2 separate regions of the Homo sapiens genome follow, and region 1 is linked to region 2. The links come from fine-mapping of genetic effects on gene expression. Tissue or cell type: whole blood. Region 2 holds a variant in brackets; the other region holds the start of a gene. All regions are shown on one strand. Distances are from middle to middle.

Region 1 (2,915 bases), 23 kb after region 2:
AACTCAAGTTCTTGTCCATGCTATTCTGCCTTCCTTTAAGGTATTAGACAAATCAAATTTAGAGGATACACCAGTTATTTTTGTGACACAAGATGAAAGCTGCTGCTATATGGTTATGTTTTCAATTAAGGATTATGTACCTAATAAACAATGATTAACTGTTACCTACTCCATAAACTGTGCCCAAACTTCATCTAAAGACAGCTTATTCTATTTTATGATCATACATTCACTATTCGTCACACGAATAACAGCAACAGCTCTGGAAATGGTGTTTTCATTGTTGTGATTTTTTGTTTTGGGGGGTGTTTTTCTGCATTGAGCCTGAAAATCCACAAATTCACAGCACTCATGTTTTTTTCAGGTGTGATACACCTGAAATAGATGTATTGTCATGAAAGTGATTTGCAAACAACGTGATACAGTATCACCAATATCTAGGTTTTACTTTATATTTTTGTTTCAAACTACTGCCTCAATACTTTAACGTGAACAGCCTATTCCAGTCCCATTTTTCTTATTTTCAAGTTCTTAATCAACATTATCCCCCCCTTGTTGTTGTTTTATAGCACTTCCACATTTTCTCCTAACACTTATCCGTAGGGTCTTACAACAACAAAACCAAACAGTTATACCTGCCTGTACTTCAAGTTGCTTCTTTGGAAAAAGGAACAACAAAAACACTAATCCAGCACTGTTGCATCCCGACTTAGCAAAGGCTAAGAGTCTAAGATGACAGTGCCAAACACGTTAACAGGTGAACTGAAAAACCATCTCTAGCGGCCTCGCCATCGGGCGGTCTCCTCCCGATGCCCAGAGGCGACAGCTACCTTTCCGTTGCACCCAGAGCCCAGCAGGCCTCGATCCTTCTACTCTCCCGGTCGGCTCAAGGCCCAGAGGCAGTCTGGGGGCACAAGGAGAAGGTGCTGAAAAAGGCTTCCATCCGACCCGAAATTTCCACCTTGTCGGGGAGACAAGGAAAATCCGAGGCGACAGGAGGTACCGTTTCAAAGAGGAGGCGGCGACGAGGCCAGTGAGGTGGGGATAAAGCAGTGTAAAAGGCAGTAAAACTAACGCAGACTAAAACAGGCCTAAGAGTGACAGCCTAGGTTAATCGAGGGGGCTACAGGCTCGCCGCTGGGCGCCACCAGCGCCTGCCAGAGGGGCGCCGGGTCAAAGGGCGCCCGGAGGAAAGCGGCCACCAGATTGGCTGGCGGGCGAGCGCGCAGGCGCCCGCGGTGGACCTCGTGCCTGCCGCCGCTGCTGGCGCCGCCGCCTCCAAGAGGTCTGACTCCTGCAGCTACTCACCAGGGTCGGGTAATTCACTTCTTGCAAGGACTCGGCCAGAGGAGAGGTTAAGACCGCGAACATAGAGCTGACTGCCGCCGCGCCCCGAGCCCAGACAGCCCCTCCTCCCCGAAGGCGCGCGCACAGCGTTCCGGGCGCTTTCAGGGGCGGGACGGGTGGGGGCGGGGTCACGGAGCGGGCGGGGCTCGGGGTCTTCCGGAGCCTCCGGTCGCGGGTCTAAGAGGACTAGGGCGGGAGCGGCGCGGAAGAAAGAGAGGACTGCGTTTTGGGGCGTTCTGTCAGAGGGGAAGGACGTGTGGATTGGAGTCAGACTGCACTCCCGCCCTATTTCTGCAAGTAGAACTCACTGCCTTTAGAAACGGTCTTCTGAGGCTCTGTTGGGAGGCTCTAACTGTATTACAGAGGACACATTTTTGTTTGTTTTTATGTGAAACATTCAGAAGTTGCTTGCATCAAGTGCTTTACAAGTACACTGGTTTTCAAACTTTTAAAGTTGAGGAACTGTTTTGATTTTTGTAAAAATAGAACTTTACTTGGAAGCCCAAGGTAGGCAGATGGAGATGGCGTTTTTAATTTGCGAATGTATTCTATAAAATCACATCTGTACTGAAGTACTAGAAATAATTGAGGATAAGTCAGATGTGAAGAGCAAGAACTTTTGAAATAGGATTACAACTGAAGGTTTCCATCTTACATTAGCTTCAGAAAACAAGAAAATGCTATCTTTTGTTTGGTTACATAGTAACAGGAAGTCCTTATTCAAGCTAGAACTTGCTGATGTGAACAGTTTCATAAGGGCTCTCCTTAAAAAGATTTTGTACACCAATTTTAATTGGGAAATATACATATGAGTATATCTCATGTGCATATCTTAAAGAAGAATGAAAAATGCCCAGGTACCCACTACAGAGCTTAAGAAAAAAAAAATGCCAGTATTTTTGGAGTCTTCTAGAAAGAAGACTCTCTAAAAACATCTCCTTCCTTCCGTTCACCATTATGCTGAATTTTATATTACTCATTCCGTTGTATTTCTGAAAATAGTTACATATGTACGATTCCCTAAAAATACTATTTTCCTAGTTTTATATTTCATATGTGAATCATTCTTCATTTTTCCCCTTTTTTCACTAATTTAGGTTTTGAGAGGTTTTGAGATTCGTCTGTATACAAGTCCATTTCCCATAAACTAGACTGGCACATCGTTACCCTTATGCTATTGTTAGACTTTTTAAGTTTTTGCTGATAAGAGCATCTGATTGCTCTTTTAATTTGCATTTTCCCTTTTGCTAAAGCCTGTTCTTAATTTTATCTCATTTTTTATTAAATTGCTTGCTTTTGAAAATTATTTTGTAGATAATATTTATTTTTTCTAGTTTAATTCTCTCTTGTAAGTTACATGTGTTGCAAATGTCTTCTCTTAGTTTATGGACTGTCTTTCCAGTTTTTATGATGTTTCTTGATTGCCAAAAGCTTTATGCTTCAGTATACAGCTTTTTGAATTTAATAATATTTTACATTTTAATTTTGTGCTTTTTGCTTTCTTGCTTACAAGATTCTTCCCAACATAACATCAGAAACTATTCTTTCTTCTACAAGTTTAAAAGTTT
Region 2 (2,915 bases):
AAGCAGATAAAATGACTCTAGAGCCATATGCAAAGAAATAATGGATGTTGATAAACCTAGTATAAGAAATGTGATTTCTGCATAAAGTAGAAAGAAAATATGCTACTTTAAAATAACATACTAAATTTATTAAAATGAAAGAAGATCACCAGGGCTGAGTTGGTTCTTTCCCCTATAATCCTAAGCAAAAAAAAAAAAAAAAAAAAAAAAAAAATCACTGAATCTGCCTAATTTTCTTTTACTTAGATGAATGATTTAATTCAGTCAAGTTTTGATTAGATAATGCCATGTAACAACCCCACAATCTCAGTGGCTCTAAAAGACAAACATTTGCTTTTCGAACATAAAATCTATGAACTGGCTTATGATGGTTCTGCTCCAGGCTGGTTCAAATCAGCTCCACGTGTCTGTCATTCTGAGTCCTAGGCAGAAAGGGGCATGCTTTTCTTATAAAAGAGAATAAGAGCATAATCATGCAAGCACATAGTATACATTATCTCTTCTCACATCTCATCAGCCAAAGCAAGCCATAAGGCCAAACCCAACAACAACAGGGCAGGAAGTATACTTACTCTTTGCATGCAGGGGAAGGAAAACCAGATTATTTGCTAAACAATGACGGAATCTACCAAATATTTCTGTCATGTCTTACTCAAAAAATTGTTCCGTTGCTGTGTTCTTAATGGTGCAGGATATAGAGGAAGGAATCCAGCCCTGATTTTTACACTCTCTGCAAAACCAGCCTACTAAATGACAGTTATAAGTGCAACAGCCTTTGCTCTAGCAAACATGCAGACAAGTATACTTTAAAAGAACAGAAACTAAATCGCTTTGAAAAATCAAGATTTAAATTTTAGTTTCACTCATTTACACTTCCAAAAAAAAACCTAGTCACATTTGCTAAAGATAATGAAAAATAACTAAAGCACCAATCATTTCCTTTTCTTGCATGTTTGTTTATAATTTAAAAGGCACTTACTTAAAATAACTCTTGGTTGAAGTTAACAAATCAAAATTACAATTACAAAATATTTAATGACTAATATTAGTAAAAACATTATATAATCAAAATGAATGAACTATAACAAAAGTTTAACTGTGAGACGGATTCATTCCCTAAAAATTCTCCATCCATTTAGTATTTCCATGCTTTGAAGACTAGCAAGAAAAAAGAGATGTTACTAATGAACGCATTTTACACTTAAAAGTTTTAGATGTGGTCAGTTATGTGCATTGGAGGCTCCAATTTGTCAGCACACAATCTACAACATCATTAATCTTTTCCTATCAGATTGCCTTAGCACACTGAATAATTCTAGTAAGGTACTGTCATTCATTAAACATATTAAAATTTCCTTATATTAGCAAGAAAAGGGAAAGTTTTCCATTCTTTAAAAAAACAGGATTTACTGCATTTTATTGA[G/A]TTAGGAAAAATGTCTGTTCCACAACAACAGAAATCATAGACAAATCCAATAAAACTATCTTATGGTTTCATTGTCATTGTACAAATGAAGGGGATAAGCCAAGAAGATCAAGGAACTAATATAAGATTCCAGAGCTACTCAGTTAGAACAAGCTCCAGTCTCATGATTCCAGGTCTATTCTTTGTCTATACATAGTTCCTCACCATACACGAGGCCAAGAAACTGTTCTAAAAATTTTGGAAAACATTAGTCTATCGTGTTCCAAGTTTTTCTGATCATTAGATATAAAATCCCTAGCACAGAGAGATCAAGTATGCTGGCAACATTAAATAGGCAATTAGTGGTCGAGCTCTTTGCCACACTCTCCTTCTCTACACAGACACTTTAAACAGGAGAAAAAGCCAACCAATCCTCATATATCATAACATTTTCATTTTCTCTTTCAAAACTTCCTGAAAGTACTAAAATAGCCAGTTTCTTGAGCTTCCATCTTCCAGGATTTTGGCAGGGCCTGGACAGAAAAGCAGCTCTTGGGCTTGTTTTGTGGAAGATAAATCAATCACTTACCCAACCTCAGCCTGGGCACCAGAACCTGGAGGCTTGCCTATTTGCAGATTTCAAATGCCAATAAGAACTCACTGAAAGGCACCAAGGGACATGGCAGGTGACAGCTCTTGCTAGACAGCTAATTTGAGAGATGCTGTCTTAACAGTTTCAGGATAGTAAATCAGAAAGAAGAGGCAGCTTTATGGACAGAAATAAAAAAATGCTTGCCTATTTAGCTCTTTCTCACTCCCTACAGTTCCATTTCTATTCTCCAATAACTACTCAATCTCTAGGCTGCAAAAGGAAAATTAAGACAAAACTAATGTTTCACATTTTTATTTGAAACGAAATATTTCAACAGTGGTCCATAACATATCTTACAGGGCTCAATTACCAGTATTGGACAAACCAGATTGTCCTCCATTAGAATATAACTGCAAGAAGTTACAGAGCAAATAAAAAGCTTCAGCAAATTTTAAGAGTGGTTGCAATCTCAGAGTGGTCTCTAGTTAAAAGAACCTACATCACTTTTTTTTTTTTTTTTGAGATAGACTCTCACTCTGTCGCCCAGGCTGGAGTGCAGTGGCACCAATCTCAGCTCACTGCAATCTCTGCCTCCCAGGTTCAAGCAATTCTCATGCCTCAGCCTCCTGAGTAGTAGCTGGGACTACAGGTGTAGTATATCCATCAGATATAGTGTTTGAAATAAGATACTAAGAGACACCCTTTATCAAGCTAAAGAACTTTGGTTACTAAGGACTTCATTAACAATGAATTTTTATTTCCTAAAATTTTCAGTATCTCTTAAGATAACCATGTTTTACCTTCTTTAAATAATCAATGAAGTTTTATTTACTTAGTGCTTACTCTGTGCCAGACAGCAATCTATGTTTTACATATATTATCTAATATAATCTTTATAACCATTCTGTGTGTAAGGAAGGT

What was found. PIP is the estimated chance that this variant, and not a neighbour inherited with it, causes the effect.
Region 1: MANEA starts here. The variant in region 2 is fine-mapped to the expression of MANEA in whole blood (INTERVAL, PIP above 0.99).

The regions. Positions count from the first base shown.
Region 1 is chr6:95,576,032-95,578,946 of GRCh38, reverse strand. It overlaps MANEA (mannosidase endo-alpha), which reads right to left and starts at 1,412. Exons shown (of 5, transcript NM_024641.4): 1 at 1,309-1,412. MANEA-DT (MANEA divergent transcript) reads left to right here and starts at 1,496. Exons shown (of 3, transcript NR_104136.1): 1 at 1,496-1,854. RefSeq lists enhancers at 813-912, 376-1,316 and silencers at 1,113-1,172, 1,453-1,542, 1,593-1,672.
Region 2 is chr6:95,599,016-95,601,930 of GRCh38, reverse strand. All of the region lies in intron 3 of MANEA (mannosidase endo-alpha), which reads right to left. Among named protein-coding and RNA genes, the nearest start is that of MANEA, 23 kb to the right of the region's middle. The variant G/A (reference allele first, on the strand shown) is at 1,424.